Homo sapiens: one gene and its partner. The protein of the gene in region 1 interacts with the protein of each later gene in a pairwise test. Each region holds a gene or a part of one and is shown on either strand. Other genes may lie near its edges.

Region 1 (6,769 bases):
CTGTTTTTCCCATATGACCATAAGTTCCATTAAGGGTAGAAACTACATCTTGTTCAGGGCTATTCCTGTGGCGCCCAAAAGTGATAAATGTCTGCTGGATAAATGAATGAGAAGAATTAGCTGACCCAGTGTGGCCCAGAAAAGCAGCCAATCCTGAAGGCTTTTCCTCCTGCCTGGAGGTGACACACCAACCCAAAGGACTGCTCAAGGAGTGGAAAGGGGCTTTCTGGGTGGAGACTGCCATCAGCCCTCTCTGGTCTAAGAAGCCTGCAAAGCTAAAAGCTCATGATTTGGCATTAGACCTGGGTCCACCACATTTAGTCCTGTGACCTCAGACAGGTCTTGTAACCTGCCCTGAGCTTTGGCTTTCTCTTCTATTGTAAGGACCAGCCACATTCATGTAAAGCACTCACCCCTTGCCTGACCCACACTGACCACTCAATAAAGCCATCGATACTAGGTTCTGGTTGCCATTTAGCTTCCCAGGAGAGCTCTGTTCTTTGTACTTCCTCTTCCCCCACCCCAGCCTCCACCAAGGTGGCCACCCATAGGAGGCATCAGAAAATGCGGCAGGACTGAAGATTTTCTGCTGCTGATCAGGAATGACTGGAGCAGAAGGAACATTGTGCCCCTAGGGGAAGGGAAACCAATTATTTGTCAATACCTAACAATAACCACACTCCCGGTTTATTGAGCACATGCTGCGTGCCCGGCGAGCTCCGGACTTCCCTCTCTGGGGGAACCCTGCGGACTGGGAGGCAGAACGGGATACACCGAAATAGGAAGAACGGAGAGCTTGGCACCCTCCCCCTCTTCACCCCACCTGGGCCCCTCCAGGAGGGTCCAGGCCCTTACTGTGGGCATCAGGGGGCCGAATCTCCTTTCCACCAGCTGGCCCATCCCTGGAAGGAGCTCAGGCAACCCCTGCTATCTCCAAACCAAGAGAGTGGGCTCCCGGTCCCTTCTCCCTTCACCCCCGTCCTCCCACACACGGGACGGAGGTGGCCTCTTCTGGAGAGAGCAGCTGGCTCGAGTGCAGTTCTGCCGTTTTATTTTTCCTGGGATATTCAAGGGGATGTGGGAACAGCCACAGGTGTGGTGAGGGGAAGCCCCCATCTCCCCTCCCCAGCCGCTGGGAAAGGGGAGAGGCCCAGGCGCCCTGGTCCTGGGTTGGTCCAGCCACTGTGGTCCCTGGGCCCAGTGGGCAGAGGGCTGAGGATGGAGCCCCTGGGAGGGTGGGGCGGGCTCCTAGGCAGGGTTCGGGATTCTTCATAAAAAGCCACGAAGCTTGATCCCCACGAAGCCCAGCCCCGCGGGGTGGGGGAGGGGGGGACGCAGAGCCCAGATGAGGGACCCGGCCCGGCCTGGCCCGTGGGGGAAAGAATGGCAGAGATGGTGCCCATGGGGAGGAGGTGGGGACAAAGCGTCGGACCAGGTGGGCAGGGGATCCAGGTGAGGGGCGCAGGGCGGAGAGGCACGGCCCCCTGCCCAGCCCGGGCGCCTTCGCGTGGGATCAGGAAGGTAAAAAACCCACGAGAGTGTGACGGGCCCGGGGGCCGGGGCGTCCGGTGCCGGTGGGGCGGGCGCACGGGGCGGCCCGCGTTCACAGTGACCTCGACGCTGGGTGTACAGTACGGGTGGAGAACCGCGGGCCCGGGCCGGGCTGGGCGGGCCGGACCGGTCACAGCCTGGTCTGGGCCTCGGGGATGTAGATCTCGATGCTGTCGGCGCTCTCGGTGGCCGAGCTGTGGCGGAAGGAAGCGGCGCGCTTGGCCGCCAGGAGCCGCTTGCGCGCTTCCTGCCGCTGCCGGTCCACGGAGTCCAGGGAGCGCTCCTTCACCGGCACGCCCCGGCCCCGCAGGGGCTTCTTTGGTATCGGCGGAGGGACCTTCTTCTCCTCCTGCGGGGCAGAGGGCGTCGCTGAGCTGGGGCGCCGAACCATCCCAACACCCAGGTGTCCGCCCCCGCACCCCCGCGCCCAGAGTGCTGACGACCGCGTGGCTCCGAACGCGATGGCGCTCAGAATCCGCCACGGATCCCGTGACCTGAAGCCCCAGGTGCTCCTGTTCCGACAAGGTCAAATCCCCACATTTTCCACCAAAGCGCGGCGCGTTCGAGCGCCCCCTGGTGGCGCCGTTCTCAACAGCTCGCAGCAGAGCCGGTTTTTCACTCCGGGTCCCGACCCGAAGGAGGGAGTTCCCGACCCAGGCTCCGCAATGAGGGTGCACATACCAGGCCTCTGGCCCTCATCGCAGACAAGGTCCAGGGACCTGGCGGCTGAGGGGACCCTCAAGGCTCTGCCGTCGATGCCTAGGCCCGAACTGAGGACAGTCTGTCCTTCCGTAAGGTCTACTTTTGCTCTCTCCAGCTGCAGCCGCCGCCACCCCCCCAACCCCGCTCCCCCGCGCTGAGGAAGCCTTGGGGTTCTGGCAGCTCAAGCAGTGATGAGCACTGGGGCCAAGCAGACGGCAGTGGCCACGAGCGTGGTCACTCTGGAAGGGGATGGTCACCTATCACCTGTCCAAGGCTGCCCTTGCTGCCCATGGATCCCTTCCCCTGCCCCCTTGTTCGTCCCACCCTCCACCTCTCTGGGGAGGGGAATTTCCCAGAGTCTGGCCTCTTTGCCTGAAGGCACCCCAGCCCCACCTTAGGCTCCAGGAGTTTCCAGCTGTTGGCCTTGAGTTGCTGTAGCTCCAGGAACTTGAGGGTCACATCCTCGATGGAGAGCTGTAGGAGGTCCCAGAAACCCGCCAGGTCCTGGAAGGTGGGCACAGGGAACGCAGTGGGATCCTGCAACAGAGGAAGATGGAGGGAAAGTGATTGGTCAAGGAGGTCTGAGCCCCAGCCAGGACAAGAGAAAGTCCTATCCACCCTTACTGCCAGGAAGCTCAGCCTGGGAGAGTGGGTGGGGGCTGGGAGACAGGGGGACAAGAGCGAGCCCAGGACTCCCCTTCTTGTGCACAAACACCTGGTCCTACCTCCAGGCACAAGACTCACAGCTACCCCAGAAGGCATGCAGGCCTGGTCTCACCTCTGGTACACACTCACTCTGGGTCACCTGCCTGTCTCACCTCCAGCACACACACACTCTGGGTCACATGTATCTGGTAGGATCTACTACTATGGGCACTCACCATGCTTTGCTGACACAGCCGGAAGAACTGCTGAACCTTCTGGGACAGGAGAAGTTGTGTGCTGCCCACAGCACTGCGGATCTTCTCCAGGACTAGAAAGCAGAAGGAAATTCAGGGAGGGAAATGATGCATCTCCTTCCCCAGCCTCCACGAAGTCTGCCCTGAATGACGCTGACCCCTCGGTTGCTTGGCACTGTGTATCCATCAGTCTCCTCCAGCCCCAGCCCCATCCCATCCTCAAGTTCCTAACAAGTTCTCGCTCCACTACACCAAGACTGTATCCTCAGACACTGATGTTCCCTCCTTCATACAGCCTACATTTCTTGAGTGCTCATCCTTCTTTATCCTTTCTCCCTCCCGTATCAGAGAACAGACGGAAACCAGCCCCAGCCTAGCCCTATAGCCTTGGCCAGGGCATTAGCTCAATGACCACCCACTGGCTAAGCTTTGTTCATCACTCCCCAGTGCATGCAAGACTCCTTGGCTCTTTAAGAATGACCAAGTAATTTCATGTACATAACACATCTTCATAGCCACTGTCCCCTCAACTCAGAGATTCTGGGGTAAGACTGTGTCTCCCAGTGGATCTGACTTACAGGAAGGGCCATGCTCTCCCTCGGGCCAGGGCCACATCTCCCTGGCTGAATCTCCCTCTTCTGTGCCTCAGACAGGATCTGACATTGTGAACTGCCTCCCTCTCTGTAATCTTGGTCGCACCACCTGGATCCCCACACCAGTCCAGATCTGAACGGAGTTCCCTTAGTCCCCATAAACTTGGTGATTTGGACTAGCAGCCATCCATAGAAGGCCCAGCCCTTTGGCCTGCAGTGTCTGCAGTCCCAGCCCTGGCCTCTAAAGCTGCACCATGTGCACCCTGCTCCCTTTCAAGAGCTCCCAGCATGTCTTGCTGCCGATGTTGACCCGCCACGCTCCAGTGCAGAAGACCAGTGAGGCACCAACCGAAGGGGCCTCCTGTTACACTGCAGCCCCAGCCACCCCCATCAGGGTCTCCTGAGCACACACGAGGCCATGGTCCCCAGAGTCCCCTTGTTCCGATGCCGTGACTCACTCTCCTCGGGTAGCTCATAGTCCTCCGCCTCACGCTCCATCTGCTGGCACCAGTGCTCCAGCTTCTCCACCTCTGCCCGCAGCATCTTGATGAACCACTCGCCGTCGCGTGGGCAGGGGGATGCGCGGCCTGAGTCGGGGAGGCTACGTGAACCGCGCTCTATCCAGGAGTCACGGCGGCCGGCCCCAGGGCCGGGGGTGGGGGCGGGGGCAGGGCCGGGCGACCCATCGGTGGCCGGCGGCTCGTACGGCAGTGGGTAGCCCTCGCGGTAGGCCCACTGGCCCTGCGTGTGGACCGTGCGGAAGACTGAGTAGGTGGGGGCCCGGGGCCCAGGCTGGGGCTCAGAGGCGTGCCTCTGGAAGGAGCGTCCAAACTGCAGGGCCTTGTCTTCTGTGGCCACCGTGGCCAGGCCTGCCAGGCCCTCCAGCTCCAGGTCTGCCTGCACGCCAGCCGTCACACTATTGGAGCGCTTGAACCTTGCTCGCCTGGGGAGAGGGGTGGCTGTCATCCCCCATTGCCCAGGCTCATGCCAGCTCTCACCCCCACCCCAAGCAAAAAAAAGGAAGGGAATGAGAAAGGGAACCTACAAAGTGATGGACATTAACCTATGCACTTTAAATATATTGGTCCTTGCAACAGCTACGTACATAATATACCTACCTATTGCACTGCCTCTAGATAGGGGTGATATCCAAGCTATTTAGCAACCAGTTCAGTCCATGGACAGAGCAGATGCTGGCATATACCAGGCAGAGCAGGCACAGACCAAAATGCTGCAGCAGTGCCCTGGAGAGGCTAGATTGTGGGGTGGGCTAGAGGGGTCAGGGAGGAGCCAGGGTGGTGGCTCTTTACCAGTGAAGGCAGAAGATATTTCAATTTTTTTTTTTTTTTTTTTTTTTTTGGAGATGGAGTTTTGCTCTTGTTGCCCAGGCTGGAGTGCAATGGCGCGATCTCGGCTCACCGCAACCTCCGCCTCCCGGGTTCAAGCGATTCTCCTGCTTCAGCCTCCCGAGTAACTGGGATTACAGGCATGCGCCTTTTGTCTCTTTTTGGAAGAGACAGGGTTTCTCCATGTTGGTCAGGCTGGTCTCGAACTCCCGACCTCAGGTTATCCACCCGCCTTGGCCTCCCAACGTGCTGGGATTACAGGTGTGAGCCACCACGCCTGGCCGAAGTATTTCAATATTTTAACAAATTCTATGTCTATGCTAGTTTACACCAGCTGCACTAGAGTGTCCTCAGCTCTACCTAGAGATGAGTAAACTAAGTAAACCCAGCTTCAAAGTAGCAGAGCCAGGATTTGGACTCAGCGCTGCTGGGCTCCACAGTCCAAGCACTTCCCACTGCACCAGCTGCTAGAACATCACAGGAAGAAATGCCTTGGAGCAGCTGGAGGTGGAGTGGGCCTGCAGCTGGGAGGACTTCTCTAGGGACCCCGATGGCTCAGCCCAGAGCCTGGCCAGACACAGTAAGTCAGTGCCAGTGGAGCTGAATTAAGTTGTTTGCAGGAATGACATAGGGCCTGGAAATTTCTTGTCTTTGAGTTAATAATATGCAAATCTTATGCAAACCAAAAAGTCAACTGGCCGTTTTCATTTTTTCCCTGAATTCAGAGTTCTTTTCTATAAAGAAGTCAGTGGCCGCTTAAGATGCATGAGGTTGGGACCAGGCAATACTTTAAGAAGTGGGAGTCAGGAGATGTGGGAGGTGGGGGATAAACAGAAGATCAAGGTTTGGAAATTCAAGGACCACAAAAGAAAAGCCTGTGTGTCCTGAGCTACCTCCACCCCTACATGGTCAGAAGGGATTGTGGGCCCAGCTCTAGGGTCCCTCCACCTCCCCAAGAGACTCTCCCAACCCCCGCAACTTCAGCCTTTCTCTTGCTGCCCAGGCCTTCTCTCCCTGCCTGCCTGCCTACTTCTCTCCAGCTGGCAGGCTGCCTGCTGGGAGCCTGTTGCCATAGAAACCAGGCCCAGAAGGATGCTGCAGGACCCAGGAAGGAGAGATGCACTCATGTGCAGTCTCCAACGAGCCCTATGTCCCAACCCCCACCCAGAGAGGGAGAAGGAGAGAGAACATATCCTCATTGCCTCCCACACAGTCTTCCCCTCAGTGTCTGCCCTGTCCTGCCCTGGTCAAGGTTTGCATCACCATCTGCCCTGATGATTAGACTGGCCTCCTTTCAGATACCTCTGCCTCCATCAGTACCCTGCAGAGGAAGAGCACGGGGCCAGGAGTTAGCTCTGAGTTCTAATGCTGGCTTTCTCACTGTGTGCCTTTGTCACTCACCCTCCATCTAGGTCATCCAATGTGTATGTGTGTATGTATTTAAAATATATGTATTAGATATAAATATACACACATATACATCTAAAAATACACACATATATACAATTATAGAAATAGATAAGTAATTGCCAAGGTAGTTCCTCTCTCTAAAATTATATTTTGCATATTTTAAGATCTGGGGCCCTCCCCAGTCCACCCAAGACTGGAATAGTCTTCCTAAAGCTGAGCTCTGCCAAGTCATTCCCCTGCTCAAAACCCTTCCACAGCCCCCTACTAC
Region 2 (8,054 bases), on another chromosome or scaffold:
GCCCCGAGAAGACGTGCTCCATCCCTATCCCGACCATCATCGTGAAGGAGCCGTCCACCAGCAGCAGCGGCAAGAGCAGCCAGGGCAGCAGCATGGAGATCGACCCCCAGGCCCCGGAGCCACCGAGCCAGCTGCGGCCTGACGAAAGCCTGACCGTCAGCAGCCCCTTTGCCGCCGCCATCGCCGGAGCCGTCCGCGACCGTGAGAAGCGGCTGGAAGCCAGGAGGAACTCCCCGGCCTTCCTCTCCACAGACCTGGGGGATGAGGATGTGGGCCTGGGGCCACCCGCCCCCAGGACGCGGCCCTCCATGTTCCCCGAGGAGGGGGATTTTGCTGACGAGGACAGCGCTGAGCAGCTGTCATCCCCCATGCCGAGTGCCACGCCCAGGGAGCCCGAAAACCATTTCGTGGGTGGCGCCGAGGCCAGTGCTCCGGGTGAGGCTGGGAGGCCGCTGAATTCCACGTCCAAAGCCCAGGGGCCCGAGAGCAGCCCAGCAGTGCCCTCCGCGAGCAGCGGCACAGCCGGCCCCGGGAATTATGTCCACCCACTCACAGGGCGGCTGCTTGATCCCAGCTCCCCGCTGGCCCTGGCACTCTCCGCAAGGGACCGAGCCATGAAGGAGTCTCAACAGGGACCCAAAGGGGAGGCCCCCAAGGCCGACCTCAACAAACCTCTTTACATTGATACCAAAATGCGGCCCAGCCTGGATGCCGGCTTCCCTACGGTCACCAGGCAGAACACCCGGGGACCCCTGAGGCGGCAGGAGACGGAGAACAAGTACGAGACCGACCTGGGCCGAGACCGGAAAGGCGATGACAAGAAGAACATGCTGATCGACATCATGGACACGTCCCAGCAGAAGTCGGCTGGCCTGCTGATGGTGCACACCGTGGACGCCACTAAGCTGGACAACGCCCTGCAGGAAGAGGACGAGAAGGCAGAGGTGGAGATGAAGCCAGACAGCTCGCCGTCCGAGGTGCCAGAAGGTGTTTCCGAAACCGAAGGTGCTTTACAGATCTCCGCTGCCCCCGAGCCCACCACCGTGCCCGGCAGAACCATCGTCGCGGTGGGCTCCATGGAAGAGGCGGTGATTTTGCCATTCCGCATCCCTCCTCCCCCTCTGGCATCCGTGGACTTGGATGAGGATTTTATTTTTACAGAGCCATTGCCTCCTCCCCTGGAATTTGCAAATAGTTTTGATATCCCCGATGACCGGGCAGCTTCTGTCCCGGCTCTCTCAGACTTAGTGAAGCAGAAGAAAAGCGACACCCCTCAGTCCCCTTCGTTGAACTCCAGCCAACCAACCAACTCTGCAGACAGCAAGAAGCCAGCCAGTCTTTCAAACTGTCTGCCTGCCTCATTCCTGCCACCCCCTGAAAGCTTTGACGCCGTCGCCGACTCTGGGATCGAGGAGGTGGACAGCCGGAGTAGCAGCGACCACCACCTCGAGACGACCAGCACTATCTCCACCGTGTCTAGCATCTCCACCCTGTCTTCCGAAGGTGGAGAGAATGTGGACACCTGCACAGTCTATGCAGATGGGCAAGCATTTATGGTTGACAAACCCCCAGTACCTCCTAAGCCAAAAATGAAGCCCATCATTCACAAAAGCAATGCACTTTATCAAGACGCGCTCGTGGAAGAAGATGTAGATAGCTTTGTTATCCCCCCGCCCGCTCCCCCGCCCCCGCCGGGCAGTGCCCAGCCTGGGATGGCCAAGGTTCTCCAGCCAAGGACCTCCAAGTTGTGGGGCGACGTCACAGAGATCAAAAGCCCGATTCTCTCAGGCCCAAAGGCAAACGTTATTAGTGAATTGAACTCTATCCTACAGCAAATGAACCGAGAGAAATTGGCAAAGCCGGGGGAAGGACTGGATTCACCAATGGGAGCCAAGTCCGCCAGCCTCGCTCCAAGGTAAGTCCGCGGTTGGTGCACATGCACACCGCTCTGCGTGCACTGTCCCTGCTGACCAGGAAAGGCCCTCGGGTAGCAGCCCCAGCGGACACGAAGAGGGGAATTCGTAAAGCCTGTGTGGGCCACGTCTGTTAATGCAGTAACACTTCTTTTTCTCATGCTCCTGGACTCCGGGATAGCCGAGTAATGATCACAGCCATCCTGGTGGGACACAGCACTCCTTCATAAAGACTTGTAATGAAATGAGGTTGCTGGAAGCCCTCCTCACCTTGGCTTCCAAAGAGAAGCTCTACTCTCTCTTCTGTGCCCTCCAGATCTCTGCCAGGACCACCTAGAAGGCCGTTTAGAGCCTCGCCAAAGCCCAAACCAAGCTTCGAGTTGGTTGCAGGAGACTAGCTGCCCCAAGAGGGCAGCGAGTGGGTGGGCGGTGGGTGCAGGTGTCTGAATACACGTGTGGGTTCTTCTTCCCCTCCCATCACTACCAGGTTTGCGGGCTTGGGAGGCACAGGGTCATGGCTGTACTGGTGAACTCTAAGTGCAGTACATTCTTCCCTGCCAGCCCATCCTGTCCCAGGGGCAGAAGCCTCTAGCTGTGTCCATGTCAGCCCTTCACAGTATTGTGCAGGGTTTACATTATTTCCATTGGAACTGAACGTAGAATAAGTCAGGAGTCATTTCTAGACGCAACCAGAGGGCTCTATCTGAGGCTGTCTGGAAGGAGCCTATATTTGATCATTCTTGCACTGCTATAAAGAAATAGCTGAGACTGGGTAATTTATAAAAAAATGAGGTTTAATTGGCTCGAGTTCTGCAGGCTATATGGGAAGCATGATGTTGGCTTCTGCTTGGCTTCTGGAGAAGCCTCAAGAAACTTTCAGTGATCACCAAAGGGGGAGCAAGAGGGAGTCGGGGGAGGTACCACAGTCTATTTAAACAACCTGATCTCATGAGAGCTCACTATGTACAGTAGCCAGGGAAGATGGTGCTAAACCGTTCATGAGAACTCCCCCACCATGATCTGATCACCTCCCACCAGGCACCTCCTCCAACACTGGAGACTACAATTTCACATATGAGATTTGGGTGGGAACACAGATCCAAACCGTATCAGGGCTCAGCAGTCTGTGGCTTTGGGGAGCCCCATTGGCTCCCGTGATGGCTTATGGTTCTTGGTTCTCCTTCCCTGTGGTGTGCACCATTTTGCTGTTCCCCAGGTGGCAGCATCTTCAGTCTCTCCCACTGATATTTGATCTTGGGTTTCATCATTTTGACTAATGAAGCCTCTCTCCATACCCCTGCTGGGCAGGCATTTGATTTAAGCCACTCAGTGCATTAATCAGTGACATCACATACAGCTGGGGCTCAAGATGCAGACTGAGAGCCCCAATTTTCCCAGTTATTTTTCAGTGTGGATGTAAATAAATGACTTGGATGTCATCTATTACTCTAAAGGAGTATCGATAGGCTGGCATTGGTATAGAGAAGCACAGTTACACTGCAGACATTCAGACAGTGCCTCCAGTCAAGGAGAAAGTCTAAGAATTATGTACGTATACACCTACAAGTACACTCAACAGCCTCCAGGAATTTTGAGAAAGGGTGTTGCTTTGCCGCTCAGGCTGGAGTGCTGTGACGTGATCACGGCTCATTGCAGCCTTGCAGCCTAGACCTCCTGGGCTTAAGCAATCCTCACACCTCACCTAGCCTCCTGAGTAGCTAGGACAATAGACGCATGCCACCACACCCAGCTATTTTTTTTTTTTTTTTTTTTTTTTTTGGTAGAGATGAGGTCTCACCATGTGTCCCAGGCTGGTCTCGAACTCCTGGGCTCAAACGAACCACTCACCTCAGCCTCCCAAAGTGCTGGGATTGCAGGCATGAGTCACTGCACTGGGCCAAAAATCTGAAAAACTGACTAGTTTAACCCTTCCCCATTACATACTAATGTGGCTCTTCCGTCATTACTCTATGTGGAAGCAATAATTAAAGAGGCCTTATCTTAGTGTTTCACATTTTTACAAAACACTTTCTCATGGGTGGGTAATTTTTATGACAACTGGGGAGCAGGTATGAGTCACACCCATTTTTCAGAGGATAAGTGGCTTGTCCACATACACAGCCAGCAGGAGGCAGAGCTGGGACACAGGCTGGGGTTTCCTGACTCTCACTTCCCCTTGTAAGCAATGTCTGCAGTAAGGAAGGAGCTGGAAGGGAATGGCTCTAGGGCTGGAGGAAGGAATCCACTGTTCAGGTCAGCAGGGCATCCTGCACCAAGCTGTGCTCCCCTGAGCACTCCACTCGGGGAGTCCAGGGACCCCGTCCATGGAGACCTCTCCCTGAGTGGCAGCTGGACAGCTCATCCCCTCTACTCGTCTTCAGGCTGGGCCAGCTCCTGGGGTGCCCACAGGGGAGTGGGACCCCAACTTGCAGCGTCTCTAGGGTTTCTCTGCCCTGCATTTCTCCAGGGGGACCCTGAGAGGGGGCTGGCTCAAAGCAGACTTCATAGGGCAGAATCCTGCTGTACTCTGAAGGAGAGCAGCTGCATACCACCGCCGACCCACGCGTGAGTGCCAAGAACGGCCGCCTCCCAGCTGTCCTGTTATTTATAGCCCGGCTCTCTTACAGTAAGAACAGGAGCCCACACCTATGACACAAAGCATTCACCAAACGCCAGGCACTACATTCCACGGCACCCCTGAGCCAGGGCCTGTAATTTTTCCCACTGTGTGAACAAGGAAGCAGAAGGCAGGGCGGTGAAGCTACTGAGCCGAGGCTACTTCACAGGAAGACGCGGAACTAGACCTCCAACCCATGGAGCTGGCTCAGGGTTTGACTCCTCACCTTGTGGGAGCCAGGGACTGCCTTGGAAGGAATGACCAACTGGCAAACCGAACACCTGCAAGGCTGAGACTGCCGCGGGCGGGGCTGCTCTCAGGCCTCTGACTGTCCTTAGGCCAAGCTCTTTGGTCAGCAAGAGGCTAATAGCAGGCTTAGTCACTAGGAGGTCACCCTGCGGCCGATAACAGCAGGCTTAGTCACTAGGGGTTCACTGGCACTGCCAAGCTCCCAGAGGCCATGTCTGTTCCCTTCTTGCTCCCGGCCAAGGGTTACACTTTACACTCAGAGTTGGACTAGAAACAGGATGGCCTGAGGCCAGAGGACAAAGATGAAGAGCATTCACTGTAGGCACTAAACTAGGCTCAATCCTCTCCCTCGCCCTTGCTTCTCGGATCTAATAACCTCACCAGGCTGAGCACTTGGGACAAAGCCCCCATGGAGGTGCGCCACGGCCACGGGACACACTGACAAGGACAAGTGGGGGGCAGTCAGAACCACCACTGGGGGGGGGTCCAGGACGGAGTTGCCAGGGCACCAGAGCTGTCCCCCTTGCCGTGAGGGCTGTCTCCTCTCAGCCACAGACCTATCTCTCAGCATGTCTCCTTTGCTGGGCGTGGTCTTCACTGATGGGCCCTGGGCATTTGATCATCTGAGGATCAGAGGGAGCCTTAAGAACTCTCACCTGAGTTCACCGCCTGGGCGACTCACCACCACCTTTAAATGCATCTAAAAATTAAGAGCTGTGAATGGCCCTGGGCAAAATGAGGCACGAAATTGGATGAAGGGAATTCCTACCGAGGAAAAAGAAATGAGTTTTTCTAGGGAAAATTGAAAACCAGCCATGCTTTTTGAAATGACAGATAAGCAGTGGTGTAAAAATCCCATTTCCATAGAAACAAGTTTTGACTGCCCAAGAAAGGGACAATTTTTAGAGCTGTTCCTCAAATGTTCATTCATGAAATGGGCAGAAACCTCAGCTGAACTTGACCCTTTTAAAGTTCCTCTCATCCTTGGATTCTTCCTTTCTTTTCACTTCTTGCAAGAATCCAGGATGGGATCAAAGGAAGCAGCTGAAGATTAAACAACTAGATCCTTGTTTTCCTTGGGTATGTTTGATTTAACTTTAGCCGTGAATGAGTCTCTGATGCTCAAAGCTCTTCCCTGAAATCAAGGATGACATGGAATTTGCAGGCGTCTTAATTACAAATACGCCGACGAAAGGAAGATGATGAAGTAGTTCTCTTTAGTACATAATGTTAAAAGAGAAAAAAGTACATCATATTAGAGGCATCTCCCAGGGTGATCTGAAAACACCCTGCCAAGAATGGAGGCGTCAGTTCTAAGAAAAGTGTTCCAGGACCACCTGGCCTGATTATTCCAGGAGGTAGTCTCATCTTTGATCTCAAACTGGATCAAAGTGAAGGAAACTGGTTTGGGGAAGGAAGAGTGAGTGTGTCTCTGTGAAGAGTCAGTGGTCCCTCCTCAGCAGAATGCCAAGACAACAGCTGCCAGCCCAGAGGCCTGACAGTGCTGCACGCTGGGGGTCCCAGCACAGGAGCCTGGGGCTGCAAAAGCTCAGAGCCGGAAGCTCCTCAGGTGCAGGCCTAGGAGACTGACTGGACACTCAGACTTGGAATCATGGCCCAGCCCCACTGTCTCCTGAATTCACCAGTCAGGAGTTCACTGAGCTACTTTCTATAAGCCTAGTGCCAGGCTGAGGCTAGAGAGTAACGAGGAATACACCAACAAGGATGCCTGGACCCTCAGAATGGGGCAGCAATTCCGTCACTAATCATTCACTCAACAAAGTTAGGGATTGCCTTTATGTGCCAGGTGCCATGCTGTGCCCAGGATTTATCACTGAACAAGAAAACATTCCAGATGCCCCTCCCTTTGGGGAGCTCAAATTCTCGAGGGGAGAAATGGACAACAAATAATAAGACAAACCCAAACTGTGACAAATGCCACAAAGGAGCCACAACATGCTAATAGGTTAGTGACCAGTGCAGAAAGGGGCTGTGATGCACCAGCAGGTAAAAATAACCACGTGCAGAAGAGAGCCACGGGACACCAGCAGGTTAACCCTGACCACATGCAGAAAGGGCGGACTAGGATGCCCTAGCAGGTTACAGTGAGCATGTGCAGAAAGGGACTGACACTCTGCAAGGAAATGACATTTGAATGACCAGAAATTTAAAAAGGAGCCAACCTTGCAGAAAACCAGGAGTGGAGCATCCCAGGCACGGGACAGAGAGTACAAGGCCCTGAGGCCAGAAAGTGCCTTCTGTGCTCATGAAACCATGGCCAGATGAGGAGGGCTGGGCAGGGCCAGGTCACAAGAGGCTTGCAGGTAATGGGCATGAGCTGAATGGAGTTCCAGATATGGCTGCCTTCAGAGGGCTTCAGCAAAGTCTTGGCATGACCAGACTTTGTTTCCTGAAGATGGCCCAGGCAGCTGTGTGATCAGGTGAATGCACTGGTGGCACAGGGAGGCTGCTGTGGGAGTGTAGGGCCTGCATTCTGGAGACAAGCAGGGAGACTCAAGGGCTAAGTGCCTAAGGAACCCAGGAGAACACAGCAGCTTGCCTGACTTATATGCTTTGACCCAAAACAAACTTGCTATGACCCAGGAGCCCCAGGTGTCATGTGCCCTCCAGCTTTATTGAGAGATACTGACACATACCAGGCGCCGATAGTAAAGCCAGATAAATCTGATGTTCTTTACCATCGCTTCCATGGCAGAGGTCAGCTTCACATTTGCTCTGTATGTGGGGGCAACAGAGCAGTGAGTGTGTGCTTGTGGGGGTCCCCCATGGCTTCTGTTAGGGTGCATGGCCTATAAGAGTTCCCCAGAGTCCCCTCTAGGTCGCCAGCCCTTTGCAGTGGGTGGGGTCCAGAAGGGACCTCGAGATTGGCCTTCGCTTCCCCATGGGATGGATGGGCTTCAGGGAGATTTGTCCTGTGAAACTCCAGGTCCCAGAGGCCCCTGAGGGAGTTCAGGCTACCTGGGATGTGAGCTCAGGCGAGTTTTCCTCCCGAGGCCCCTGCGCCTGCTGCCTCACGGTACCTGCCTCCCCTTCCCAAGGCCTCCAGTCCCTACTGGGCTCTCTGCAGTATTATCCTGACAGCCTCTTGATTTTCAAATAACTTTGGGTTGTTAAAAAGTTATCTCTGCCCAGCTGGTCCCAGAGCACAGACTGCTTCAAAACTGACTTGGTACTAGAAGCTGCCTCACGGTGTTTTCAGCATCTCAGGACCACTAGGTGGTTTGAGGGTTTCCAGGCCCTGATGGAAAAGTGAA

The links. The genes of interacting proteins can lie anywhere in the genome.
Region 2: the proteins of DLGAP3 (region 1) and SHANK2 interact in a two-hybrid assay, tested with the Homo sapiens proteins (one study listed by BioGRID).

The regions. Positions count from the first base shown.
Region 1 is NC_000001.11:34,864,402-34,871,170, forward strand, and holds the end of DLGAP3 (disks large-associated protein 3), read right to left. Parts: intron 4,689-6,769; coding exon 4,204-4,688; intron 3,227-4,203; coding exon 3,135-3,226; intron 2,791-3,134; coding exon 2,647-2,790; intron 1,901-2,646; coding exon 1,682-1,900; 3' UTR 1,035-1,681; downstream 1-1,034. UniProt on the Homo sapiens protein: May play a role in the molecular organization of synapses and neuronal cell signaling. Could be an adapter protein linking ion channel to the subsynaptic cytoskeleton. May induce enrichment of PSD-95/SAP90 at the plasma membrane.
Region 2 is NC_000011.10:70,479,175-70,487,228, reverse strand, and holds part of SHANK2 (SH3 and multiple ankyrin repeat domains protein 2), read left to right. Parts: coding exon 1-1,915; intron 1,916-8,054. UniProt on the Homo sapiens protein: Seems to be an adapter protein in the postsynaptic density (PSD) of excitatory synapses that interconnects receptors of the postsynaptic membrane including NMDA-type and metabotropic glutamate receptors, and the actin-based cytoskeleton.